6 linked regions of the Homo sapiens genome follow. The protein of the gene in region 1 purifies or fractionates together with the protein of each later gene. This does not show direct contact. Each region holds a gene or a part of one and is shown on either strand. Other genes may lie near its edges.

The links.
Region 2: the proteins of TTC5 (region 1) and SWAP70 fractionate together in Homo sapiens (co-fractionation; one large-scale study listed by BioGRID). This does not show direct contact.
Region 3: the proteins of TTC5 (region 1) and GMDS fractionate together in Homo sapiens (co-fractionation; one large-scale study listed by BioGRID). This does not show direct contact.
Region 4: the proteins of TTC5 (region 1) and SERPINB8 fractionate together in Homo sapiens (co-fractionation; one large-scale study listed by BioGRID). This does not show direct contact.
Region 5: the proteins of TTC5 (region 1) and TCP11L2 purify together in Homo sapiens (affinity purification with mass spectrometry; one large-scale study listed by BioGRID and IntAct). This does not show direct contact.
Region 6: the proteins of TTC5 (region 1) and SCIN fractionate together in Homo sapiens (co-fractionation; one large-scale study listed by BioGRID). This does not show direct contact.

What each region holds. Positions count from the first base shown.
Region 1 is NC_000014.9:20,291,626-20,296,488, forward strand, and holds part of TTC5 (tetratricopeptide repeat protein 5), read right to left. Parts: intron 4,822-4,863; coding exon 4,765-4,821; intron 4,230-4,764; coding exon 4,083-4,229; intron 3,902-4,082; coding exon 3,687-3,901; intron 503-3,686; coding exon 358-502; intron 1-357. UniProt on the Homo sapiens protein: Cofactor involved in the regulation of various cellular mechanisms such as actin regulation, autophagy, chromatin regulation and DNA repair.
Region 2 is NC_000011.10:9,666,210-9,671,072, forward strand, and holds part of SWAP70 (switch-associated protein 70), read left to right. Parts: intron 1-4,863.
Region 3 is NC_000006.12:1,930,324-1,935,186, forward strand, and holds part of GMDS (GDP-mannose 4,6 dehydratase), read right to left. Parts: intron 1-4,863. UniProt on the Homo sapiens protein: Catalyzes the conversion of GDP-D-mannose to GDP-4-dehydro-6-deoxy-D-mannose.
Region 4 is NC_000018.10:63,983,135-63,987,997, forward strand, and holds part of SERPINB8 (serpin B8), read left to right. Parts: intron 1-444; coding exon 445-587; intron 588-1,958; coding exon 1,959-2,111; intron 2,112-3,123; coding exon of another isoform or gene 3,124-3,132; exon of another isoform or gene 3,133-3,516; intron 3,517-3,739; coding exon 3,740-4,144; 3' UTR 4,145-4,863. UniProt on the Homo sapiens protein: Has an important role in epithelial desmosome-mediated cell-cell adhesion.
Region 5 is NC_000012.12:106,343,732-106,348,480, reverse strand, and holds the end of TCP11L2 (T-complex protein 11-like protein 2), read right to left. Parts: intron 2,196-4,749; coding exon 1,951-2,195; 3' UTR 1,478-1,950; downstream 1-1,477. UniProt on the Homo sapiens protein: Promotes the migration of muscle-derived satellite cells (MDSCs) during differentiation throught interaction with FMNL2 and therefore may participate in microfilament assembly.
Region 6 is NC_000007.14:12,642,805-12,647,667, forward strand, and holds part of SCIN (scinderin), read left to right. Parts: intron 1-1,333; coding exon 1,334-1,511; intron 1,512-1,779; coding exon 1,780-1,901; intron 1,902-4,863. UniProt on the Homo sapiens protein: Ca(2+)-dependent actin filament-severing protein that has a regulatory function in exocytosis by affecting the organization of the microfilament network underneath the plasma membrane.

The sequences.
Region 1 (4,863 bases):
ACAAACATTTGCATATAATATCCCACTCATGATTTAAAATATAGATATATGTGTATATATTTGTGAAAAGAAAAGACTTCAGGTATATACACCAAACTGTTAACAGTAACAGTTAAAAGGCAGTAATACCTGAGTGATAATATTTCACTGCATTTTTTTATTTTTCTGCTTACCAGTTTACCTTTTTAGTAAAAAAATACATATATATATATAAATAAAACATATACACACAAATATATATACACATAGCCTACACACATACTTACATATAATTATTTCTATATCTTTTATAAAAAGATAAGCTTGGTTCTACTTTTAGAGCCTACGAGTTGTAAGAGAATCCTAGCCATTGCTCACCTTTCCTTTGTGCTGAATTCGGTGAAGCCGCAGGTTGGGCTCAGGAATGGCTACAGAGTCTCCAATGAGCACTCCCCAGCTCTGCACTATATTGTACACCATCACTGCATAGCAAGGTCCATCTGAATCTACCAGGCCAAATGTACTACCAAGTAAAGACAGATTAGGAGAGAGGAAAACAAAAAGGTATGTGGGTAGGAAAGAAGAGCAGAAACAGTGGTTTAAAAATACTAGCAAAATACTGGACTTAAAGTCAGTGACAGGTAATTAAAATAAAATATAAAATTTAACTTAATTAAACTTTAAAAATAAAATACTAACAAAATAAACAAATGCTTTTTCTCAGTTACTCAGAAAACCTATGAGAGGTACCATCTTCCACTTTATATATCTGAGTCTTCATTTTTCTGAAACTCATCAGTCACTTTGCTAAGAACTTAGGACAAAGCACACTGAAGCCATTCAACAAATATTAATGATGAACTAGACCAACATGTTACAGTTGTAACATTATTCCTGGTCTATCAATTTAACTATCATACTCTTAACCAAAGCCTCTAACCATCACTGTCTGTGTAGTTTAACTCCACAAACTTTCACTGAATATTACATATGTGCCAAGCATTGTGTTTAGCAATAAGATACCAATCCAGCTATGAATGACCTATAGTCTAGCAGGAGTCAGACAATGAAGTCATCACTTACAGCACAGTGTGATGGGTGCTAGAATAGCTTTTCCCTTGTGCTGAATTCAATGAAGCCACAGATTGGGCTGTGGGAGCCCAGAGGACAAATATCTAAATCAAAATTGGAAAGCAGGGAAGATTTCCTGGAAGAGGTGACGCTCAAAGTGAATCTTAAAGGGTAAAAAACCAGCTGGGTTAAAAGAGAAAAATTAATCCTCGGTAAAAATGTTAAAAACCTCTGAGGGGATAGGAACAGAGATTTTGACTTGGAGGCAACATCAGGGAACTTCCCAGAATGGTGGTAATGATCTCTATTTGGGTTATACAGATATTTTCCATTTGTTAAAAGCTATGAAATGTACGCTTAAAATTGTACATTTCATTGTATGTAAATTTTACATAAAAAGAAAAAATTGAAACAAATACTGAACTCAGTTAATGACTGCATGCTAAAGTATGTAAAGTATATTGATCTCTGCAATTTACTCTGATAGCAGGATAAACAGACTGATATGTAATAAGCTAAGTAAAATAAAATATTAATGGTAGAATATAAGTGGATGAGAACACAAATGTTCAATGTAAAACTCTTTCAACTTAGCTATATGTTTGAAAATTTTTATACAAAATGTTGGGGGCAGAAGAGGATGTTAGCTATGTCAAGAAGAAGCTAGAGATTATCCAGGCAGAGTAACTGTATGTAAGACACAGAGGCATGAAAACAGCTGTTCTAAAACCAACAAAATTGTTCCATGGTTGAAACAAAAGGCACTGGTGGGAAAGAGACAAAAGATAATAGAAAGAGAAGCAGGGAGCAAATCATGAAGGACTTTGTATGCTAACCTAAGTAGTTCACACTTTATCCCAAAAGCTACATATAGTACCAGTAAGGGATCTTAAATAAGAAGTAGCAATGGTCAGATTTCCATCTAAGAAACATTTCTCTGGCAGCACTGTGGAACACTGGAGGAAACCAGAGAATCAGGGAGACCTATCTGGAGAAGTGATAAGGGGGTGAATTAAGGTGGTAAACACAGAGAAGTCAAGTCTATAGGACAAAAAAGGCAAATCTTTTTGGAGAATGGAGAAGCCTATTCTTCCAAAAGTCTTAATCAAGTGACTGAGAGGTGATACCATTCATTCACAAGGAATCCAGGGAGGAGAAGCAGGTTTACAGAGAAAGATTTAGGTGAGTAATACTGAAATACTGAGTTAGAGATTTCTTATTGGAACCCAGAAGCAGATGGTTATAGGAATCCAACACTTGGAAATGAAGCTTGGGCTGGAGATATATCTGTAAGCATATAGGAGGCTGCCAAAGCCTTGGGTTTATATGACATCACAGGGCAAGATGATCTATAGACAGGATGGAGAAGAATCACACTCATGCCATCACGTGACATGCCTGAATTCACAGGAAATATTGCAATCAAGCAAAGCACTCTCCTGATGAATCCAGTCAAAGCCTCAGAATCCTTCTACACAGTATGTCAGGCAACCACTGACAAGTGATCAAAGTTGGCAACTATAGGCCATCCTGATATAAAGAGAAAAAAGGAAAAAAACAAAAATAGAGTCCTGGGAACCTAAGATTTAAAAGTTAGGCAGAAAAAGAGAAACCAAGGAGTGGCAAAATATCTATTTGTTCTCAAGGTCCTCCAAAACCTACCTTTGTCTATATCCCTTTCTAATTCTTCTCAGCTCTAGGATTTGCTCTAGTAAACTAAACTGTTCTCAACTATCTTTTTGCCCTTCAACTCGTCAAATATACAAACCCCTAGAAAATGCCATGGAGAAAGCTTGGGCATATAATGGGAATTGTGAATATTTCTGTTTAGATGAACAGAAAGGATGTGAAAAGCAATAGTGAGAGATAAGTCAGAATGTTTTGGAACCATGCAATAGAAGTTGCTGGATCCAGTGCCTAGAAAGACAATGGTGATCCTAGGAAAATAACAATTTCAGTAGAAAAGAGAAAGGGGAAACCGGTCAACCAGGGATTAGGAAGTGAGTGAAGGACCAAGGAGTGGTGGCATTCACTAAACCGTAACTTTTCAAGATCCAAAAATTTTCTAAACAAATATTCTTAATTCATTTCCTCTGCTGCTAGAAGCACCTGCACCTGGGTCCTTTACATTTCTTTTTTCTCACTCCCTATGACACATATATTACACACTCAATAAATATTTGTTGAATGACATCTAAGACAATCTCCCAACCAGACTTTAAATTATAACTCAAAGCTCACTTTTCAGAACTAAGTATACCTAAGTACAAACAGGACTAAGAAATTTGTCCTCCTTCAACTTCTATGATCATGAAAATGCAAAGGGACAGAAGAATTTTGAGGTTTCTGTCTTATAAAAAAATATGTCCTGCCAAATTTCAACTATGGATATAGGAATCCACATAGCACCAAACTCAGGGATACAAAATGGGCAGTGACAGAATCTACAAAAGCCTCTGATCAAAAGATGGTTAAACATCACCCAGACAATATCTGCCCACGGGATAGTCACAGAAGGAAATCAGAAGTCACAAATCTGTGACCACTGACAATCTCCTCAACTGCCAGGGAAAGAACAGGAAGTGAGAGCAATTAGTTCAAAAGGGTAAAATGGGGGAAATCCAAGAGAAACTCACAAGGGGACTTTCTCCTCTGTGGTGAGGCTAAATACCACCTTTCCCAGGATGACGGCACCGCTGTTCACCCCAGGCTGAAGCGTACTCAGTGGCTTGAGCTCCAGGGTCACTTTCTGCCCAGAGGCTGACTGATAGTGCCCATCACTGCAAGGGCCTAGATGGGCTGGGCGCAAGCTTCCCAGCATGCTCTGCAGCTTTTTGGTCTTCACCTTTCCCTGCAAAGAAGGGGAAATAGGTAAGAAGCTGGAAACTAGTCGCCTTCCTTGAGATTCTAATCCTTCCCTCCCACCCACTTCTATAGGGTCTCTACCTCGTAAACCTATTTATTCTTATTTTATTGACCCACGACAAAATAAAAAAAAAAAAAGTGGAATTCAGCCCTTCAGACATTTTTACCTTACTCTCAAGGAGGCTGGTTAATCTATCCAGGAATTCCAGAAGTTGTTGCTCTCGTTGCCGGGGCTCTGGCCAGGCAGGGTCCAGGGCTGCAGCCCGAGAGAAGCCCTCCAGGGCCTCCCCATAACTCTCTTCATATTTATGCAACTGTACAAGAAGTGTATCCCAATTATAAGTATATCCAGACAAACTATCCCGAGGGAATGGCACCATGGGCTAGGAATCTAGAGAAATAAACTGTTTTCCTTCCTGGTTATTTTCCTGTGCTGCAACAAACAGCCTGAAGAGCTGGTAACACCTTACATCCTTCTTCCTAGCCAAGATGATCACAACCCCAAAGATGGAATCATTTCAAAGAAGCTAATTTCCAAACTCTAAAATAGTTAAGTTGTATATATTGGCTCACTTGACCTTTATATTTACTTAACATTTCAGAAGTCTTCTAAAAGATCCCCCCATTCTCTACCTATTCTTCCACCTCCACAGCCCCTTCTCCTTTCCCTCCAGTGACTACACCAGATACTGAAGCCAAACCGAGCTAGCTATTTATAGAAATAGCATGGCTTTCCTCTCGCAGTCTGTACCCAATCTTGTCCCTATGCAAACTCAGTTATCCTCACAAGCTAAGACATAGGTGTCTTATTTATTTGACCCTCAGATGACTACACCCCAAAGGTCTTACCGTCGCCCTGTTCAGATGAAGGTCAGGATTGCTAGAAGCTTTTCTGTCAACTTTCTCCTATAATGGGATGAAAAGATTATCAGTGGATCCTGTCTCAAT
Region 2 (4,863 bases), on another chromosome or scaffold:
CAAGTAGCTGGGATTGCAGGTGTGCGTCACCACACCTAGCTAATTTTTGTATTTTTAGTAGAAACGGGGTTTCACCATGTTGGCCAGGCTGGTCTTGAACTCCTGAGCTCAGGTGATCTGCCCTCCTTGGTTTCATGAAGTGCTAGGATTACAAGTGTGACCCACTGTGCCTGGCCAATATTTCATTTTAATAGAGTTTTTTACTATATTTCTTCATGTAGGTTTTTTTAGTACTTGCTCTAGGAGTTAGAATATCCATCCCTAACTTTTCATAGTGTACTTAGAGTTAATATTTTACCACTTTAAGGAGAATGTAGAAAACTTATCACCATATAGGTCCCTTTACTCTCACTGCTTTATGTTGTAATTGTCATATTTATTAATCTACATACATTGAAATCCCCATCAGACAATATTAAATTTTTTGCTTTCAACCATCATTTCTCTTTTAAAGATCTTAAGAGGAGAAGAAAATTTTATTCTTTTTTTCCAGATATTCCCAGATGACCTCTTAATTTTTTTTTTTTTTTTTTGAGCCGGAGTTGCGCTCTGTCACCCAGGCTAGAGTGCAGTGGTGTGATCTCGGCTCACTGCAACCTCTGCCTCCCGGGTTCAAGCGATTCTCCTGCCTCAGCCTTCTGAGTAGCTGGGACTACAGACACGTGCCACCAAGCCTGGCTAATTTTTGTATTTTTAGTAGAGATGGGGTTTCACCATATTGGCCAGGGTGGTCTCAAACTCCTGACCTCGTGATCTGCCCGCCTTGGCCCTGCAAAGTGCTGGGACTACAGGTGCCCGCTGCCATGCCTGACTAATTTTTTTGTGTGTATGTTTTAGTAGAGACGGGGTTTCATTGTATTGCCCAGGCTGGTCTCGAACTCCTGAGCTCAGGCAATTTAACCAACTTGGCCTCCAGAAGTGCTAGGATTACAGGTGTGAGCAACTGCAATGATATGTTTAGTGATTTGTCCAAAGTCACAGTTGTAAGTAGTAGCTAATCTAGAACCAAGATTTTCACACTTCTGTGTGTGTGTGTGTGTGAGAGAGAGAGAGAGAGAGAGAGACAGGGTCTTGCTGTGTCACCCAGGCTGGAGTGCAGTTGCACTATCTTGGCTCACTGCAACCTCCACTTCCTGGCTCAAGCGATCCTCCAGCCTCCACCTCCCAAGTAGCTAGGCTCACAGGCATGAGCCACCATGCTCAGTTCATTTTTGTATTTTTTTGTAGACATAGGGTTTTGTCATGTTGTCCAGGCTGGTGTTGAACTCCTGAGCTCAAAGACATCCGCCCGCCTTGGCCTTCTAAAGTGCTGGTATTCAGATATGAGCCACCTTGTCCAGACAACTCTTTATAATTCTTTTTCTCTTTTTTTGGAGACAAGGTCTTTTTGTCGCCCAGGCTGGAATGCGGTGGCGCGATCATGGCTCAATGCAGCCTCAACCTCCTGGGCTCAAGCAGTCCTCCCACTTCAGACTCCCACGTAGATGGGACTACAGGCACAGGCCACTATGCCCAGCTAATGTTTGTACTTATGTAGAGATGGAGTTTTGCCATTTGCCCAGGCTGGTCTTGAATTCCTGAGCTCAGACTATATGCCTGCCTCAGCCTCTCAAAATGCTGGGATTACAGGCACGAGCCACTGCACCCATCCTATTTTCACACTTTATTACTATTACTGTTGTATTTTTTATTTTTTTGAGACGGAGTGTCGCTTTATCACCCAGGCTGGAGTGCAGTGGTGCGATCTTGGCTCACTGCAACCTCTGCTTCCTGGGTTCAAGCGATTCTCCTGCCTCAGCCTCCCAAATAGCTGGGATTACAGGTGCCCACTACCACACCTGGCTAATTTTTGTATTTTTAGTAGAGATGGGGTTTCACCATGTTGGCTGGGCTCATCTCAAACTCCTGACCTCAGGTGATCCACCCGCCTTGGCCTCCCAAAGCATTGGGATTATAGGCGTGAGCCACCATGCCTGGCCTATTTTCACACTTTAAAGCCAATGGTTTCTTCATTTTCTTCTCTTCCAATTGACGGCATAAATGAGATTTTTTGGATTACTTTGATGATACTTTATTCAAAATTGTCTTTATGGCTGCTTATAGGAAAAGCGTCTTGGCAGGAAATGTTAAATCCCAGTTCATAGATTTCACCCACAGTATGTTGATAATGCAACTGTGCAATTGTATTTTGTCTCTCTCTTGTCTGTATGAGACTTTGGGATTGGTTCAGTTCTGTTCATCTTGCCAGTGTTCGTAGAATTGAAAATATTTAAACATTTTTATTTAGGTCTCCTTTTGTGTTTGACCCTAGTTCTGTGTTCTGTTGGCTGGGAGTAGAGTTTTTGCCTTAATTTGTTGATTGATTCATTCACTCATACAGTAACCTTCTGTAAGTCTACTATGTGTAAGGTACCATGCTAATTTAGTCAGAAGATTAGTATTTTTAGGCTCTTAAGAGTTAATATCTCCTTGGAGGAAATGTCAAATAATTGATTTGTTAAACAGCAGACTAATAATTATGTATCCAAAATGATGGTTAAAATGTATTGCTTTGGAAAGCTATATGGGTATTCTAAAATATTTTTGATACTTGCCTTTTTGAGTTATCTTCACAACTTTTGACACAGAGAATGGATATATTCACTAGATAAGGGATATGGTGGTGAAAGGCAGAGAAAAAAGAAACAAATATGAATCTTTGCCTTCAAAGAGTTTAAACTTTGGTAGGCAAATTAAAAGGCTAAATGACCATTAAAGAAGGCACACTCTCTCTCTCCAGATAGAGATTATATTACTCAGACAATTACTGATCCTTAAAAAACATAAAGTCTGGTGGTGAAGGTAACAAACAGAAATATTGGGTTAAAGATACTGAGTGTGACAGAAGATATGGAGCCATGAGATTTTAAAGGAAGAAGCGATTTCTTCTCACTGGTGTGATTGCTTTATGAAAAAAGCTTCTTTGAAATGAACTCCGAAGGAAGTTAGGATGTGATTATGTAGGAATGGGGGAAGATTAAGCCCATTCTATTAATTAATTAATTACTTAGTTTTTTGAGACGGAGTCTTGCTCTGTTGCCCAGGGTTGAGTACAGTGGCAACCTCCACCTCCCTGGTTCAAGAGATTCTTCTGCTTCAGCTTCCCAAGTAGCTGGGACTACAGATGTGCACCACCATGTCTCGCTAATTTTTGTATTTTTAGTGGAGACAGGGTTTCACCATGTTGGCCAGGCTGGTCTCAAACTCCTGACCTCAAGTGATCCACCTGCCTCGGTCACCCAAAGTGCTGGGATTATGGGCATGAGCGACCACGCCCAGCCTAATTTATTTATTTAATGGATAGTTATTGATTGCTGTTATCCCTAGGGAACACTGATCTACTGCAAGAGATGGGAATGAATCAGGTATTTATGGGGACTTCTGTGTAACTTACTTTGATTGGAGTGTAGAACATACACATATGTGTTCCTGTGTGTGTATGAGAGAGAGTTATTGCTGGTGATAAAGCTACAGAAATAGATTGGGGTTAATGCATAGAAAGCTTTGATTGCCACACAAATTAGGTGTATGCCAGGGGCCCCCCAGGTTTTCAGAGAATGATGAGTTGTGATCAGAATTGCACTTTAGAAAGTTACTTGCCAGGTGCGGTGCCTCACACCTGTAATCCCAGCACTTTGGGAGGCTGAAGTGAGTGGATCATCTGAGGTCAGGAGTTCAAGACTAGTGTGGCCAACGTGGCAAAACCCTGTCTCTACTAAAAATATAAAAATTAGCTGGGTGTGGTGGCACGCACCTGTAGTCCCAGCTACTTGGGAGCTGAGGCAGGAGAATCACTTGAACCTGGGAGGCGGAGGTTGCAGTGAGCCGATATCTCACCCTGTACTCCAGCTGGGGCGACATAGCAGATGTGCTGGCTAGAGTGGATTGGGAAGATAACAGAAACCATTGCAATAGCCCCGATAAGAGGTAATAGGGACTAGAGACAGTGAAGATGGACAAGAGGGAAATGGTGGGTCAAGGTATGAGCCTTGACCCATGATTGGGTGGGAGGAGGACGGGAAAGGACAGATTCAGAAATGTCTCAGATGTCAACTACAGTTGACCAGATGTGTAGTAGTGGTTTTGATTTTTTTAAATAATGGTTTTTAATAGAAGTGGGTTTTAAAAGAAATGGAAAAGCCACAAGAAGGAGCTGTTTATGCAGTGATGCAGTTTTGAACACGAAAAGTTTTTTTTTGTTTTATTTATTTATTTTTTTGAGGTCCTTGATGGGTGTATGTTCAGCTGGAGATGATATTCCTGGGAAAATTTGGGGTTGTCAGTAAGGAATTTGGTAGTTGAAGCTTGGAAAAAGAGGAGAAAAGAGCCATTGACAGTCTTGGGGAATGGCTATGGTAGATGATGAGAGGAACAAGAAAAGCAGAGGACCAGAAATCAGAGATAAGAACCCCTTTGGGGCAACGCTGGAGCTGAGGGAGAAAACTTTTAAGGAAAACATGGTCTCATACCTTTGAGAGTTAATTTTTTATTATTATTTTTATTTTCATTTATTTATTTTTTCTGAGGCGGAGTCTTGCTCTATCACCCAGGCTGGAGCACAGTGGGGCCATCTCGGCTCACTGCAACCTTCACCTCCTGGGTTCACGCCATTCTCCTGCCTCAGCCTCCCGAGTAGCTGGGATTACAGGTGCCTGCCACCACACCTGGCTAATTTTTTATATTTTTAGTAGAGACGGGGTTTCACCATGTTAGCCAGGCTGGTCTCGAACTCCTGACCTTGTGATCCACCCACCTCGGCCTCCCAAAGTGCTGGGAGTACAGGCGTGAGCCACCATGCCCGGCCTATTATTGTTTTTTATATAT
Region 3 (4,863 bases), on another chromosome or scaffold:
CTTTCATTCTACACTCCCAGCCACCCTGTTAAAACAATAAAAGAAAAGAAAAAGAGAAAAGATCATTAACTGTCATTTAGACAAGTTAAGAAGCCCTAATTCCATGTGTCACATCAGCTCTACTTTCAGAACAAACGTTTTTCTTTGGGGGACATCTTAACATTCCTAATTTGTTGCTTCAATATGCAACCCAGGCATTAGGCCAAAGAAAAGCTGTTGGAATGCCAGTTTTTAAACAGAAAATTCAAAAGGGTTGTATAAAGGGAAATGCCAGAATGGACGACAGACATCTAAGACCACCCTGATTTTTTTTAAGAACACAAACATCATATATTCCTATTAATAAAGCTACTTTGGGACTCATGGGGAGAGAAAGAAACATAGCTTAGTTCACAGGGTAACTAGTTAAAGGAAACAAGAAAGGAATTTATTTAGGCTGCCTTTCTCTTAACAAAATAAGTGGTGATGGCTCTTATTTAGAAACCTGCACAGCCATCCAAATGATATGATATGGCCCCTGGGCAAAAGTTTCTCTGTACTATACTTAAGGCAATGCCACTTTCCAAATTCATTTCAGTGTTATTTACAGAAAGGGCTCCTAAATTTTGTGTAATATTTTGAAATGATTGGTTGAAAGGGGCCATATCTTGATGAAAGCACTGAAATTGTTTTAATGTTCTCTGGTCTTTAATGAAAACTCTATCTGCTTTTTCAAAGATCACAAAGTTAAAAGGCACTTCTGAGACAGTTTTACCTTGTTATCTAGGTAAGGTTATGAGAAAACACCATTTAATACCAAATTCTCAAGGTAATAATACTCATATTAGCTAGTTAATAATGGATTCATACAGTTTAGATATGTGAATATCATGATTTATCACATACCAATGACTTTAACTATGTTCTTTTGCAGATGAAGCAGGGAGGCAAATATTATGATCAAAGTGTTTGGCTTCTGGAGAGCTGGCACAGGGATAAGGGGAATATTTCTAAATAGGTTTTCCAAATTTTGGCAAGAACGTGGCTTAGCGCAAGTTCAAACATACACCAGATTCACTTACTCCACAAACTTGATACGTACATTTATACCTACACCATTATCATTAAGAAATACAATGGGACTACCGTGGAAATCCAAATTTTCAATTCCCCTTGTCAATTCAGATGGTATGTTAAGAAATACAAAGTTTCAACTTTCCACAGAGGTTTATATAGCACATAGAGGTCCTTCAAAAAAAAGTGCCTTTCGAAATGAAAAACTACTTATTAGCCAGTAAGTAATTAGTGGCTAATTAGTAATTTTAAAAATTTTTCTATTGACTTGTAAGAATTAAATTTAGGTTTTTTGATGTTTATCATTATTTCAATGTCAGGACTATACTATTTTCTCAAAGTATACTAAGAAACCAATGATGGCAAACTATTAAATGAAGATTCCAACATAAAACATTTCAGATTAACCTGTTTACCAGTAAAGTAATGTTTGGGAGTCCAATGGAAGTATTTGACCCTATTCATACAATTTATTGATTCTTTTACCCAGTGTTGACTACGCACCCACCAATCACTAAGCACTGAGCTAGGCACTGGGGATCTGGGAGAGAAGCAGCAGCCCCTGCTCTCAGGTATCACAGAGAGGGTCAGGTGGGCCAATAAACCAGTGCTGAACCTAGTAAAATGCCAGGTCTGCAAGGGGGGAAAGCCTTTGGGGTTGTAGCATGGCTGCCAGGCGCAACGCACGTGAGAAATGCCTACCAGAAATGGAGCTTGAATGGAGTCTACCAGTGAGGTCATGAAGGGACTCATCAAGCTGTGAGACAGGGTGGTACTCCAGGCAGGAGGAACGGCACTTGCAAAGATGAGGAAGGGCCTTTCTCTTCCAACTCTTACCACAACCTTATGATGGTTATGGCACCTCCAATGAGGGCTATCGCTGATAGCACTGTGCTGAGCTCTTTAGATGGGGTAACTCATTTAATTTTCCGAGCAACCCATGTGCTAATATTACCCCCATTTTGTACATGAAGAAGCTGAGATTCAGGGAAGCTATATAAATTAACTATTCTAAAACAGCATTCAAATCGAGAGCTATATGACTACCAAGTTCTTATATTACCAGAACTTTCATGTCGTGCTAGAAAGGTGGATCTTTTCTTATCTGGTTCCTAAAGTTATCTTGGATAACTAGCCAAAATTAACTATAATTTCTAATTCTTTTTTTTTTTTTTTTTTGAGATGGAGTCTCACTCTGTCACCCAGGCTGGAGTGCAGTGGCGCGATCTCGGCTCACTGCAAGCTCCGCCTCCCGGGTTCACGCCATTCTCCTGCCTCAGCCTCCCGAAAAGCTGGGACTACAGGTGCCCGTCACCACGCCCAGCTAATTTTTTGTATTTTTTAGTAGAGACGGGGTTTCACCGTGTTAGTCAGGATGGTCTCGATCTCCTGACCTCGTGATCCACCTGCCTTGGCCTCCGAAAGCACTGGGATTACAGGCATGAGCCACCGCGCCCGCTCAAAATGTAATTTTAACTATTATTTAGAACAGCTATTTTGAGATATAATTCACATAGCATACAATTCATTCATTTAAAGCATATGCTTCAATGGCTTTTCTTATATTCATAGAAATGTACAACCATCATCACAATCAATTTCAGAACACTTTCATCATCCCAAAAAGAAACCCTGTATCATTTAGCAGTCACTCACCAGTTTTCTCCTAGTACCCTAGCCCTGGCATACAGATAATCTACCTTTTATCTCTAGATTTGCCTATTCTGGACACTTCCTATAAATGGAATTATATTAATGTCTGGTCTTTGTTTCTGGTTTCTTTTAGTTAGCATAACATTTTCAAGGTTCATCCATACTGTAGCTTGAATCAGTACATTGTTCCTTTTTTATGGCCAAATAATATTCTATTATATGTATATACCAAATTTTATTTAACCGTCCACGAGATGACTATCTGTGGTGCCTCCATCCTTTGCCTTTTGTGAATAATGCTACCATGAGCGTTCATGCCTTTTTGTGAACGTATGCTTTAATTTCTTTTAGGTATATACCTAGGGGTGGAATTGCTGGGTCATATGAGAACTCTGTTTTACCAATTGAGGAACTGTAGACTTTTCCAATGTGGCTGCACCACTTTACATTCCCACCAGCAGGGTAACAGGGCTCTGATTTCTTCCCATTCTCCCCAGTACTTGTTATGGTCTGTTAAACTGTAGTCATGCTAGTTGGCACCGAGTGGTATCTTATTGTGGTTCCGATGTGTCCTTCTCAATAACTAATCATATGAAGCAACTACCTTTTCATGTGCCTACTGGCCACTTGTATATCAATTTTGGAGACATGTCTATTCAGATCCTTTGTCCATTTTTAAATCGGATTACTTATCTTTTTATTATAGAGTTGTAAGAATTCTTTATACATTCTGGATCCAAGTCCCTTATCAGCTATATAATTTGCAAAGATTTTCTCTCATTCTGTAGGCTGACTTTTCACTTTCTTGGTTGTGCTCTCTGAAGCATAAAAGCTTTTTTATCTTTTAATTTTGATGAAGTCCAATTTGTCTACATTCGCTTGTGTGGCAGATGCTTTTGGTGTCATATTCGAGAAGGCTTCGTTAATCCAAGGTCATGAAGATTTATTCCTATATATTTTTATGAGTTTTATAGTTTTTCTTCTTACATTTGAATTTTTGATCAATTTTTAGTAAATTTTTATATATGGTGTGATGAAAGGGTCTAACTTCATTCATTTGCATGTTGACATCCAGCTGTCTCAGTATTATTTGTTAGAAAGGTTATTTTTCCCATTCAATAGCATTTTCCTCAAAAATCAATTAATTAATGAAAAATGTGGGAGACAATTTCTGACTTTCAATTCGATTTCATTGATGTACTTACTCTATGTCTATCCTTATGACAGTACCACACAGTCCTGGTTACTGTAGCTCTGTGGCAAGTTTAAAAATTAGGAAGTATGAGTTCTCCAACTTTGTTCTTTTTTAAGGTTATTTTAGCTATTCTCTGTCCCTTGAATTTCCATATGAACTTTAGGATCAGCTTGTTGATTTCTGCAAAAACACCAACAGGGATTCTGAAAGGGATCATGTTGAATCTGTAGATCAAAATGGAGGCTATGCCCATGCTAACATTATTGTGCCTTCCGATACATGAATATAGGATGTCTTTCTCCTTTATTTTGGTCTTTTAAAATTTCTTTCAACAATGTTTAATAGTTTTCAGAGAATAATTTTTACACTTCTGCTAAATTTGTTCCTAAACACTTTATTCTTTTTTATTTTATTATAAATACAATTGTTTTCTTGATTTCAAGAAAAAGTTTTGGATTAATTTTAAACATTTTTGTAACCACATGTTTTACTACTTAATTCTCAAGAAAGGCTTAAAATGATTTTTTTTTTAAATTTGCTCTCCTCATTTTTACTCCATGTTACAGAAGAATGCTCTTTTAAGGAAGAAACTATATAAAAGCATAGAACATGAGGGCTGAGACTATCCCAAGTGAGAGGTGAAGAAAGAGAAACGCACAGAGGCTGCACACCTGTCCTGAGTCAGGACAAGTAGCCGAGCCGGACCCAGGCCTGTCTCACTGGCTTTCTAGCCTTGTGCTGTTTTGCTAAGCCACAGTGCAATGCAGGAGGAATCTCTTCTGCGATGAGATGACCTAAGTGTTTGTGAATTATTATAGCACATGTGGATAATGGAACCCCTATAATTAACTTAAATACATACTTGATTTATAAAGCCTTAAACTATAAGATTCTCGTTAGAAAGAGGACTAAGAAAAGTTAGCTCAATGAATGGAGGGAAAGCCAGCTCTGTTAGTAACCAG
Region 4 (4,863 bases), on another chromosome or scaffold:
CCTACAATGCACAAGACAGCCCCCATAACAAAGAATTATCTGGCTTAAAATGACAATAGCGGTGAGGCTTGGATATGATAGTGCCAAGGTTGACTGCCCCATAGTCAGAATCAAGACTCTGGGGTGATGTTCTCAACTCAGCCACTTGTCACCTGTGTGCACTCAGCAAAAGTCTGGCAAATGCTCTGGTCCTGAATTTCTACATCCATAAATTGAGGGCAAAATGATAGTTGCCCTTCCTACTTCAAGATTTTTTTCTTAAGCACAAATGTTACACTGTGTATGCCACACTGCTAAACACCATCGCCTAATTCATCAGGGGCCCAGAAAGACAGAACTCCAGCCTGTCTCTCAACCAAGCCTCTGCCTTATGTGTCAAAGGGATTTTTGTAAAAGAATGCTTATTTCCCCACAAATTGCAATAAACTCTCATATTCTTTATAGGTAAGATTTCAGAGGTACTGGATGCTGGGACAGTCGATCCCCTGACAAAGCTGGTCCTTGTGAATGCCATTTATTTCAAGGGAAAGTGGAATGAGCAATTTGACAGAAAGTACACAAGGGGAATGCTCTTTAAAACCAACGAGGTAGGGAAAGATTTTTCAGATATACTGCTACTTTCTTAAAGTAATATTACAGGAAATATTCTCTTGGAAAAATGAATAATTTATTTGACATGATCTTGATTTTAATCTATTTCTGAATTATATTATATTATTTTATTTTCTTTGAGACAGGGTCTCTTTTTGTCACCCAGGCTGGAGTGCAGTGGTGTAATCTCAGCTCACTGCAGCCTCGACCTCCCAGGCTCAAATGATTCCCCAACCTTAGCTTCCCAAGTAGCTGTGACTACAGGTGCACACCACCAGGCCTGGCTAATTTTTGTATTTTTTGTAGAGATAAGGTTTTGTCATATTGCCCAGGTTGGTCTCAAACTCCTGGCCTCAAGTGATACACCTGCCTTATCCTCCCAAAGTTCTGGAATTACAGGCAGGAGCCACTGTGCCTGGCTTCTTTTCTGAATGAATTTAATGCCTCCTGTGTATCTTTAATGGCGGAAGGAAGAGAGAAACAAAAATAATTTTGGTATTGATAGTTTTGTTTTTCCATCTTTGATCAAATCTACCTTCCATCTCTGGTCATATGATTTGGATTGGAGGAGAATTTCTTCTAAGCCTTGGAATTATGTTTGCATGATGCTATTACTCTCTGTATTTAGTTAGATACCTTTTTGCAATATCAGTGGCAACTATGCCTATTTATTGCCTTAAAAGTCAAAGTTATACAATCCTGAGCACAAGAAAAAAAAGTTAGCAGATGTAAAGCCTAACTTTACCTTCCCTTTTGAATATTAAAATGGCTGGTATCAATAGTTGTTAGCTTGGGATTTGACATCCATCAAATATGATACTCTCATATTGCACAAAGATATGAAAGTTAAAAATATATTTGATGCAGGCTTTAAAAACAGCAGACCTTACACATCTCTTCAAGGTCCCCTTCCTAAGAAAGCCAAGGCCATAAAACCAATTCTACAACAAGGCAACTTTCCAGAGTTTGGACCGTACATCTTTTCTAACCAGATCCTTCAGCCCAAGGGCCTGAATATTTATCTTAACTTCGATAAAGAATTTTTAGTTGGAAGCTTCCATGAGAAAGCTTCTCTGTGAATGTTCTCAAAAAAGCAAACACAGCTTCTTCCAAGGATAATGTCAATTTTTGTGTCCTTCTCCATTTACCAAACTGTTTTTTTTTTCTCACCTGGTAATATTTGATCTGCTGGAACAATAGCTTGTTCTATTCAATACTAAGATGTACTAATGAAGATTTTATATCTATCAGCATAAATGTGCAGAAACAGTAATTATACACACCTAGAGTTTCTGTGAGTTAGATATATCCTATTTTTAGTAAATTATACCCACTTTTCAGTAATCGAACTTTAATTTTTCCGTTAGGAAAAAAAGACAGTGCAGATGATGTTTAAGGAAGCTAAGTTTAAAATGGGGTATGCGGATGAGGTACACACCCAGGTCCTGGAGCTGCCCTATGTGGAAGAGGAGCTGAGCATGGTCATTCTGCTTCCCGATGACAACACGGACCTCGCCGTGGTAAGCTCCAGGCAATGAGCCTGAGTATCTGTGGAGTCCAGCTGAGCTCATTTCTTTATGTTCATCTACCAATTGGCATTTGAGGAGTTTCCAGTTGGGGTTATTACAGGCAGTGCTGGGTGAACATCATTGTGTGTCTTTTGATGAACATGTTCATGCATTTCTGTTGAGTGTATACATATATGAGTGGACAAGTTTTGATGAAGCTAAGAAGAGAGAGTTCTAAATATATTATTATTTGGAATATTATTCTTTATTCTGCATGGAAGGTCTATTTGAAAGCCCAATGATTATTGCACAAAAGTCCTGGAAGAAGGGTAGGGATCAATCTTGGCAGTGATTCTCAAACACTAATGCACATATATGATTCTAGTGATCTTGTTAAAGTGCAGATTTTGATTCAATGGAGTGTGGCCTGAGATGTTGCATTTGTAACAAGATTCCAAGTGATACAGATGCTTGGAACCACACTATGAATAGCAAAAGTCTAAAGTACAGGTGGGAAATTTACCTTATACAAGAGGAGAGAAAAGTCTTACTGTGACAGAAAAGGAACAGAGTCCAGGAAGGGAAGTGGTAAACTTGCAAGGTAGGAGGTGCAAGACTAATAGTGCACTTGTAAACCAGCTCTGGGAGGTGGGAGAAGCCTTCATTTATAAAGTTTGCTGATTCTCATGACATGGTAAATACTCCCACCATGGCCGACTTTAGTCTACTGAGGGTTTAACAATTGATAGGGGTCAGCTCTGGCACACCAATGCACAGGATGTTGAGGGTGGGCTGCTTGATTTTCCTGGCTTCCCTTTGGAATCAGAAAGCTACTGCCCTAAGTCAGGGATGACATCTGTTGTGGCCACTTATGAGAAAATTAGGAGAGTCTAGAAATAGAGTCAAAATCAAAACAATGCTCGTTGGAGAGGAGTACCCACCTGGGCTCCAGTTGTTAAAGGGAAGGGGAGATGCTAGTGGAAGGCCTTTCTCCCTTTTTTCTTTCTACCTTATTGATAAATAGAAAGAGTGATGGATCTTGAAGAATTTGAAGCTAACTCCAGGACAGGCAGAGGACAAACAAGGATGCTGATGAAGTCTTCTTGCATTCCCCATTTCTCGTCTCATGCTCCCTTCTCATGCCTCCCTTCATCTTCAGATGAAACACAATTCCCTCTCTTTTACTCTGAGTTGCCCTCTGATTTAACCCTGAATAGTCCCCTCATTAGACTCAGAAGCAGAGTTCTGAGCCATGCTCTTTGTCTTTTGTCAAACAATCTCTCCCACTCACAGTAGTATGTATTGCATGAAGATTAATGTAATGAATTGGTTAGAATTTTCTAAACTGTTAAAAAATGTTTTTAACATTTGAAAGGAGTTAGGTACAAATTGTTTTTATTAAAAATTTCTGCCTGTCTCAGGTGTTTACTAGCTCTTTTACACTTGTCTCCATAAAACTGTGAAAAGATGAAAATTTGGGAGAAAATCTTGGTGTGTTTATAAAAGAAAATATCTGTAGATTTTCTTGGACCAGAACTCACCATCTAATTGCATGTCATTGGGGGAGGGGTAATAAATGGGTGTGTGGGTATCAGGCTATTGTCATCTAAATTTTAAGGTTTGAGTCTTTCTTATCCTAGGTGGAAAAAGCACTTACATATGAGAAATTCAAAGCCTGGACAAATTCAGAAAAGTTGACAAAAAGTAAGGTTCAAGTTTTCCTTCCCAGATTAAAGCTGGAGGAGAGTTATGACTTGGAGCCTTTCCTTCGAAGATTAGGAATGATCGATGCTTTTGACGAAGCCAAGGCAGACTTTTCTGGAATGTCAACTGAGAAGAATGTGCCTCTGTCCAAGGTTGCCCACAAGTGCTTCGTGGAGGTCAATGAGGAAGGCACAGAGGCTGCCGCAGCCACTGCTGTGGTCAGGAATTCCCGGTGCAGCAGAATGGAGCCAAGATTCTGTGCAGACCACCCTTTTCTTTTCTTCATCAGGCACCACAAAACCAACTGCATCTTGTTCTGTGGCAGGTTCTCTTCTCCGTAAAGAGGAGCAATTGCTGTACATACCCTCCTTTCCTTCTACCTATCTTGCCTTAATTAACATTCCCTGTGACCTAGTTGGTGCAGTGGCTTGAATGCCAAAATAAAGCGTGTGCACTGGATAGTGTGTGAAAGTCTTTGCTGAAAGTTCCAGAGCCATTGAGAATAACTGAGGCCGCAGATGCATGAAATTTGGGCCTGGGAAGGCTATGCTGGTTTTGGAGTGTTTGGGGTGCCTGCCATTGCCTCTGCCTTCACCTAAGTCTGTGCCCATTGTTTCAGGGGATCTTATGGAGCATCTCAGGGCTTCAGGAGCCAGCCCTCTTCCATCCGCCCGGCTCTGCCCACCACCACTGCCAGGCTGAACAGGGGACTAGTGCCCAGGTGACACTGCACACAAAGCCAAGGGCAAACCCTATAGAGTAAAGCTGCAGCCACCCTGTGTCTCATGTGCAGCTGAAATAGTGATCTGCTTCTGTCACTGTCACATAGACAGCCCTGCATGCCCCCTGTCTCACACAGTTTGTAATGAAGACAGCTCCTTCTCATCTTTCCATAAGCCTGAGATACAAGTTCAGGGACTCAGCAATGCACTTTAGGACTGAGCTAGGAGGCAAATATCTGAAGCTTGCTATGCTGTTCTTTCCATTCCTTTTCCCTCTGAAACACACAAAATACCAAAGGAACTTACGCAACACACCACTGAGTCCTCTAACTAATCAT
Region 5 (4,749 bases), on another chromosome or scaffold:
GGTGAGGAAAAGAAGGTTGGGGAAGAAAGGAATGCTTCTTTTTATTTTCTACCCACTCGACCTCACCAAATTACTAGGGCTCAATTGAGTCCTTAGCAAACAAAACAATCAAAAATGTATTTTATGCAAATGAAGCTCTTTTTAGACCAAGTACCTCCCAACTGCAGTGCTTCCCGCAGCACTCCAAGAAGAGTAATTCCAGGATAAGCAGATTTCTCTAAAGTCTCAGTGGCAACTAGTGCCCAACTTTGCAAGGTTTGATTTAACGCTCAAGAATGGCAAATGAGGCCGGGCGCAGTGGTTCACGCCTGTAATCCCAGCACTTTGGGAGGCTGAGGCGGGCGGATCACGAGGTCAGGAGTTTGAGACCAGCCTCACCAATGTGGTGAAACCCTGTCTCTAGTAAAAATACAAAAATTAGCTGGGCATGGTGGTGCATGCCTGTAATCCCAGCTACTCGGAAGGCTGAGGCAGGAGAATCACTTGAATCCGGGAGGCAGAGGTTGCAGTGAGCCGAGATTGTGCCACAGCACTCCAGCCTGGGCAATAGAGTGAGACTCCATCTCAAAGAAAAAAAAAAAAAAAAAGAATGGCAAATGAGGCCGGGCATGGTGGCTCACGCCTGTAATCCCAGCACTTGAGGAGTCCGTGGTGGGTGGATCACGAGGTCAGGAGTTCAAGACAAGCCTGGCCAACATGATGAAACCCTGTCTCTACTAAAAATACAAAAATTAGCTGGGCGTGGTGGCGGGCGCCTGTAGTCCCAGCTACTCAGGAGGCTGAGGCAGGAGAATTGCTTGAACCCAGGAGGCAGAGGTTGCAGTGAGCTGAGATCACGCCACTGCACTCCAGCCTGGGCGACAGAGTGAGACTGCGTCTCAAAAAAAAAAAAAAAAAAAAAAAAAGGCAAATGATAATGATCCTTAGGAGGGCATCTTGGTCATAACACGGTAAAGCTTTCATCAGCACAAAAGACATCTGGTAGTTAAGTTATATGGGTAAGAAATCCAAAGTTTAACTGTTTCTTTTTCAGATATGAACTTCATGGAGAATGGGATCTCATTTTATCATTGACTCCCTTTCTTCTTCTTACAAGTAAACCAAATGAGCCCTGCCTCACATAAAAATATTAAACTCTTATATAAACCTTATCAATGGCCTGAGAACTGCAAGGACATTCACTAAGAGATTTGTGCAAAAATTGTTTTTCTTGGAGAGCAGACTAAATTGTAAGAAGAAACAAACTTCTAGAATAATTTGAGAAGGGAGTTGCTTCTATTTTCACTAAACAAACAAGGGAGGTTTTATCTGAAGTTTGTATATAGCATGAAAATGTACTTAATACATTAAAATTCTAAATAAATACTGACCATTGGTATTATAAAGTGTGATTTGGTACATTTGTGGAATTTGAGGACTTACTTTGAAAGTTTCTATTAACACATTAATAAAATGTAATTGTACATTTCAAATACAATTGTGTTTACTTCACATCATTTATTCAGAACATCAGTTCCCTCAGTTATTGTCACAACCTTCAACCCTTTAAGGAGTTGTACCAAAATTAAAAACCATTAGGTTTGATAATAACAAGTGAGAAAAACAACTCCTTAGGGGTTAAATGTCATAAGCCAAATATAAATGGTTAAGAAAACATTTACAAGTATTATATAGGTAATATAATTAATTACAAATTGTTTTCTGTTCATTACAAATATTTGTTTTAAACTTGAAAATGATGCACAAATAGGGTCTATGTGATGTTTACGTCTTCTGAGGGTCTATGTGATGTGTGTGTCTTCTGTAATGCTAATATTACCCATTACACAGATTTGGGCTAATACTGCACCACAGTACTGAGAATGTGCTGGATCTCTAATGCCATCAATGGAAGTGGACTGGATACCAAAGTACTGGATTTCCAATCTCTCGTCCAATGTCAGTTCTTCTTTAGTTAGTAGGAGGTGAAGCATCTACCTTCCCCATGGCTTCCTCATTGAAGAGCAGCTTTCGAAGTATATTTGCATAAAATGGTCCATACACTTGTTTGTTGAGATTCACAATGTTTGCATATTGAGAGCCTAGGGCTTCTAGCTCCTGCTGAATGACAGCTAGGCCTCCTGGCATAGGAGGCATGCATTTTTGAGGGCTTGGAAGACAAAGTAGCCTTCTCATGTAAAGCTTAATTCGTTTATCTGAAGGGGAAAAAAAGATACTTTTATCTGTCCATTATTAAAGTACATAATTTTTAAAAACAAGAACAAGTAATTGTAGTAGGTTGACTGCAATAATGTTCCCAATTCTTTACCCCTCCCTGCACCCATCCCCTTTCCAAGGTAGCTTTGCAGTTCCTCCTATCAAAGCTGGAGTGTGTTTTTCCCATCCTTTCCATCTGGGCTGGCCCTGTGACTTACTTTGGCCAATACAGAATGCGGTGGAAATGCCAGAGTACCAGTTTCATGCCTTGGCCTCAAGAGGCCACTCTTGTTCATGTCCACCGTCTACCTACTACCGCCATGAGAATAGGCCTGGGCTTGCTGGAGGATGAGAGACCAAGGAGAGGGAAACCCAGCTGTTCCATCTGAGGCCATCCTAGACCAACCCATAGCCAACCAGCATTCAAACACCTGAGAAAGTCCAGCCAGGATCAGCAAAGCTTCCATCCTGAGTCACAGCTGAACCACAAATACATTAGTGAGTTCAGCAAGACCAAAAGAGCCACCCGGTCGCCTCACAGACTGGTGAGTAATAATAAATGCTTATTTTTTTTAAGCTCAGGAGTTTTGTGGTATTTTGTTATGCAGCAATAGCTGACTGATAAAAAAAAAAAGGCAGAGCCCTATTTGGGGGGAATCTTCTACAAAAGTTAATCCTAAATGTTCATGATTATAATTACATACACTAAAGCTGAGTTTGTAAACTGGCATTGCCAGTCTGGCCCATGCAGTGTCTTTTTTAAAAACAGAAGCCATTTAAAATCAGGAGATTTCACATAGAAATCCATATTTCTGCTTTCTCTTGAAAAATCTAGAGATCTGGCAAACTTGGGGGCCCAAATTACCACATGGCAAGGGGGACCACACATCTAGGTTTCCCCAGGACAGTCAAAATTTACACCTGTTGTCCTGGCATAATTTTAAAAAGAGACTCTCAAAAGTACCCTGGTTGAACAATAAATTACATGGTGCCAGGCGTAGTGGCTCACACCTGTAATCCCAGCACTTTGGGAGGCCGAGGTGGGAGACTGATTGAGCCTAGGAGTTCGAGACCAGCCTGGGCAATATAGTGAAACTTCATCTCTACAAAAAAAATTTAAAAATTAGCCAGGCATGATGGTGTGTGCCTGTAGTCCCAGCTACTTAGGAGGCTGAGTTGAGAGGACTGCCTGAGCTCATGAGGCTTCAGTGAGCTGTGATCATGCCACCACACTCCAGCCTGGGCAACAGAGGGAGACTCCATCTCAAACATAATTAATTAATACTAAATAAGTTACAGGGTACTTCACACATGGCCAAGAATCAGGAGACACTGAGGAAGGGACATCCCAACCAGCACACCATTGTGCCACCTTCCCTGCCCTTCCTGCATCACTGCCTCAATGTATTTGACTTTGAGACGACTACACAAAAGCATAGAAATGCATATGGAAATCAGGCTGCAATAGTATAGGACAACTATTAATAATACTGGACAGAAAAGACCTGCTATAGCTCAGGCTGCTCCAAGGGCTTTCTCTGGCTTTGGGAACAGAAACCTCACCAATAAGAAGGTTTACTAAGGAAAATATGCCACATTGAATATAGACAACTATGATACTACTAAAATTCTTATCACCAAAGAATGCTCACAAAAATCATACATTCCAGCTAGGTCTGACCTAGAACTTGTTTCCAATGTCTATGTCTTAGAATTCTTTCCTTTTACTAGAATGCCCTTCAATCTCATCTCATTTCATCTCATCTCTGCCCAGAATCAGAGGCATCCTTCAATGTCGTGCCAAAAGTTACCTCCTTTCTGTGACTTTCCTTAGCATCTGTTACCAGACTATCGTGACATATGATTGCCAGTTGAGAAGGTGTCTCTCTCCCTTCTTGGACAGTGGACTCTCTGAGCGTGAGGTTTATATCTTTTTTATCTTTATATTCTTGGTCTGTCATGTGACAGACACATTGTAAATGCTGACTGAACTTAAGTGAGAATGGACTGAAAAGAGTCTATAAAGATAAATAACGAACTGAAAACCGTGGCAGCCAGGGGAAAATGGGGACTGAAGAAGGCAAACAAAGGTGACTTAAGCCTTATCTGTATTTTTTTTCTTTTTTTATATATAGACAGGGTCTCCATCTGTTGCCCAGGAGAGTCTCAAACTCCTGGCCTCAAGCCATCCTCCTGCTTTGGCCTCCCAAAGTGCTGGGATGACAGGCATGAGCCACCGTGCCTGGCCTTTGTCTGTAATTTTTCTACAAGGAGAAATTATTGTATCACCTGTGCAACTGAAATTACTTGTTAAAAGTGTAGATGGCAGGCCAGGCACAGTGGCTTAGGCCTGTAATCCCAGCACTTTGGGAGGCCAAGGTGGGCGGATCACGAGGTCAGGAGTTTGAGACCAGCCTGGCCAATATGGTGGAACCCCGTCTCTACTAAGAATACAAAAAAAATAGCTGGGCTTGGTGGTCCGCACCTGTAGTCCCAGCTACTAGGGAGGCTGGGGCAGAAGTATTCTTCTTGAACCCAGGAGGCAGAGGTTGC
Region 6 (4,863 bases), on another chromosome or scaffold:
TCTCGGGCTAGTTTGCTGCGTTTTCCTCTTCTGTTTGACCTCTAAGTTCTTGAGCGCTCCAAGTCTCGGCCTTGGCCCCTTCACTGTGGTCTCATTCAGTCATATGGTTTAAATGCTACCATATGTATTGATCTCATCCAGAACCTTCTGTGCACGGATTCTTCTGTGTTTAATTATGACTATTTTTTTGACATTTAAAAACTATCAAAATGACATTTAAGCATACATTATCTACGGGCATTCTCAGTTGATTTCAGATGGGAAAGTCAACCAAAATGCACCATTGTTACATTCTGATCTCTTCCCCAGTGGACATTCCTTTGTGAGACCTCATCAGCTGCTTTCTGTGCATCTCTTTATTTTCTTGCAGCCTCTCAAACCAGCTTTCACATTCCCAACCTCTCTGAAATGCACCAGTCAAGATCATTTTACAGGTCTTTCTGTCTTCATCTCCCGGCAGGCTAAGGCTTTATAAAGATTCTGTTTTAGATCTCATTTCCTGATCTCACACCAGTCTGGGCACAGGTCTCTTGTCAGCTTCTATCCATCATCCGGGCTCTTTCCTCTGTACCCATAATGAGATGTTTGTATTAGAAATTGGAAGCCCTGGAAGCCAGACTTGGTTCCTGTAATTCTCCATAATCACATCTGATAGATTCCTTTGAGCTTGTTCTGTGAGGCCTCATTCCTGCTGGGAGAGGACTTTAACTATTTTCCTGAATGTTCCCAATTCCTGGACATTCCTTTAAAACTTCCAACAGCCATTCCTTCCACCTCTAGTGTTCTCTCCTTCAACAGGCTCCTGACAAACCTGGTGAAATTCAACTCTCCACATCATGGCTGCCTTCATCCTGGCAGTTCAGTGTGGTTGGCCAAGCAGCACCATTTGGCACAGCAAATCACCCCTGCCTTCTTGAAGCATTTTCCTCACTTGGCCTCAAGATCACTTTACGCTCTTGTTTTCCTCCTCCGTCTCAGCTGCTCCCCCTCAGTCTTGCTTACTGGTTCTTCTTCCTCTTTCTGGAATCACACATCACACTTGTTTGACAATTATACAGAAAGTCATACCAGTGACATAGTAGCACAGTCATATGGTCAGACAGTTCTCACAGAGACAGACACAGAGTCACAAATCCACAAGTGACACAGACCGAAGTGCTCCTACTCTAGGGTTTAAAATACCATAGTGGTGTCCCAGAGCGGCTCTGAATTAATTTCCTGGGATAGGGCAGAAGGCGATGTATGGTTTGCCACAGTCACAGCTTCTGGGACATGTTTATTGAGGGAGCAGCAATGAATTTGAATCATTGTTTTATTTTTCTTCATATTCCAGGTTGATGTTGATGCAAATTCACTGAATTCTAACGATGTTTTTGTCCTGAAACTGCCACAAAATAGTGGCTACATCTGGGTAGGAAAAGGTGCTAGCCAGGAGGAGGAGAAAGGAGCAGAGTATGTAGCAAGTGTCCTAAAGTGCAAAACCTTAAGGATCCAAGAAGGCGAGGAGCCAGGTGTGTGCTCTGGGGCCAAGGGCACTAACTAGAATTTATACTGATACGATTGCTAATCATCTTTTTTTCACCAAAAAGTCACTTTCTAATGGCTTATAAGGGTTAACAATCTCTCCATTAGTTGCAGAGGTGGGTGGGTGATGGTACCTGATTTCTTTAAGTAATTTCTCAACACTGAAATCAAGGTGAGATAATATTTGTTCATATAAAGCGACAGCAAGCATATGTCCCTGAAAATGCACTGGATAACTGAGTGTGTTTTCCACAGAGGAGTTCTGGAATTCCCTTGGAGGGAAAAAAGACTACCAGACCTCACCACTACTGGAAACCCAGGCTGAAGACCATCCACCTCGGCTTTACGGCTGCTCTAACAAAACTGGAAGATTTGTTGTAAGTGTCCTTAAAAATAGTGCGATAGGGCTGGTTGCGGTGGCTCATGCCTGTAATCCCAGCACTTTGGGAGGCCGAGGCAGGCAGATCACCTGAGGTCAGGAGTTCGAGACCAGCCTGACCAACATGTAGAAACCGTCTCTACTAAAAATATAAAAATTAGCTGGATGTGGTGGTGCACACTTGTAATTCAAGCTACTCGGGAGGCTTGAGGCAGGAGAATCACTTGAACCCAGGAGGCGGAGGTTGCAGTGAGCCAAGGTCGCGCCACTCCACTCCACTCCAGCCTGGGCAACAAGAGCAAAACTCCGTTAAAAAAAAAAAAAAAAAAGGGCCGGGCGCGGTGGCTCATGCCTGTAATCCCAGCACTTTGGGAAGCTGAGACGGGTGTATCACGAGATCAAGGAGTTCCAGACCAGCCTGGCCAATATGGTGAAACCCCCTCTCTACTAAAAATACAAAAATTAGTCAGGCATGGTGGTGGGTGCCTGTAGTCCCAGCTACTTGGGAGGCTGAGACAGGAGAATCTCTTGAACCCAGGAGGCGGAGGTTGCAGTGAGCCAAGATCGTGCCACTGGCACCACTGTGTTCCAGCCTGGGCAACAGAGTGAGACTCCATCTCAAAAAAAACACAAAAAACAAAAAACAGTGAGATAGAACCTAACAACGCCGGGAAGGGCATTCCCATGTGGCTCTGACACCTTCAGACATGCTACTGTTCTGAATCTCAGTTTCAGCCTGCCTACAAACCACGGTGACAACCTTTGCTCTACACAGGGTATTTTTTTTAAACTTTTATTTTAAGTTCAGGGGTACATGTGCAGGTTCGTTACATAGGTAAACTTGTGTTGTGGGAGTTTGTTGTACAGATTATTTCATCACCCAGGTATTAAGCCTAGTATCCATTAGTTATTTTTCCTGATCGTCTCCCTCATCCCACCTTCCACCTTTCGATAGGCCCCCAGTGTGTGTTGTTCCTCTCTATGTGTCCGTGTGTTCTCATCATTTAGGTCCCACTTATAAGTGAGAACCTGCAGTATTTGGTTTTCTGTTCCTTACACAGGGTATTTTAAGGATTAATGATATAATTAATGTGAAAGCATTAATGTTGTGATGTCCTATATAGATTAAGCTGTTCTTAAAAGTACTAGCTACTTTACACCTGTGTGAGCATGCAGTTGCTGTATGAATATATATGTGGCTAGATGTGTTAATTTAATAATTTGGCATTTTCTGTGGGCAGCAATCATTATTTCTGATCAAACTATGTAAATTTTACATGTCAATTTCCCAGCGGAGTAAAAATTTTCACCATATTGACTGAATTAAAAATATTATGGAAATATTATGATCATTGGGCAAAAATCACAGAAAGCTATATATGCAGTTACAAATTAACTGATATCAACAGGAATGTTTTATTTCATAGTCATTTACAAGCTTTGACTTCCAGTCCAGTCAGAAGTAAAATTAGAAGTATGTGTATGCATGTCTTAGTTCAAGCTCCTATCACAAAAATACCATTGACTGTGTGGTTTAAACCACAAACATTTATTTTTCATGGTTCTGAAGGCTGAGAAGTCCAAGATTAAGGCAACAGCAGATCTGATGTCTGGTGAGGGACCACTGTCTAGCCTTCTTGTGTCCTCACATGGCCAAGAGAGCAAGCTCTAGTCGTGTTCTTTCCTTATAAAGACAGACACTAAGCAGGGGCACTGTACCCTCATGGCCTCATCTGAACCTAATTACCTCCCAAAGGCCCCACCTCCTACTACCATGCCATTGGAGGCTAGGGGTTTAGCATAGGAATTCTGGAGGCAAACAAACATCCAATACAAAAGAATACAGGAGTGATTTTACACTAGGCTCTGAAATATCATCCTGAACCACAGCCTCTCACCTAAATTTCAAAAAAAAAAGTTATACTTTCTCTGTTTGACGTGCTAAGTTTTTGGTAAATTTTTCATTTAAAGAATGAATTCTTCTTTTATATAAAATTTGATCCACAGATTTTGGTCAACATGCCCTAGTGAATAAATGCAAACTTCATTTTTCAACACAGGAAAGAAAATTTCCCACGTATTTTGTCAGATATTTTGATTACTAGAAATAAAATTATTTGAGATGAAGTGGTTCAAGTCTCCCTTGAAGGTTATAAATGATTTGACCTACAAGTTAAAGATTTAAACAGTGCATTGAGATAAATATTTGGTTGCTGTATACCACAATTTGCTCACCTACTTTACAGGAAATCCCTGAACTTGCTATATTTTATAGATTTGTCATCAGAAAAATCTGCTGTTTTATTGTTTTGACTTGATATTGCATCCAAGCAACTTATTTTTCAGCATATGCTCCTATAATTTCTTATTAGAATTATTTATTAACATTGCTATAAATTAGTTGTTTGTTTCCAAGAAAAATGTATTTTACAAAAATAAGTACCTAGGCTTTGTTCTCAGTGTGTTTAAAGAAAAAAGATCTGTTAGTCTTTGGCTTTTTGTTATGCGTATATATTAGCCTTTAAGAGAAATATACATTTCCTCTGCACCAACTCATTTTCTTGTTTGATATTTGGAACCCCTTCTGCTCCCTTTATAGTTTAAGGCAAAGGATTGTTGCTAACAAATCTTTGATCTTATAATTACTATCAGAAAGTAGGCTTTACACGTGTAGATTCCTACAAGGCAGCTACAAGGCAGCAGAGCTTATTAACTAAAAGCACAGCTTTTAGAACCAATCTGCCCATGTGCTGTCACTTATCTGGTGGTAGTACTTGCTGGCTGTGTGACTTTAGGCTGGTTACTGAGCCTGTCTGGGCTGTAGTTGTCTCAACTCTAAAATGGTGGTAATCTTAGTACCTACTTCATAGAGCTGTGAATATTAACTTAGCTGTTGCATATAAAACATTAGAACAGTGCTGACGTCAAGTTAAGTGCTAAAGTTTTTCTTTTTAAAATGA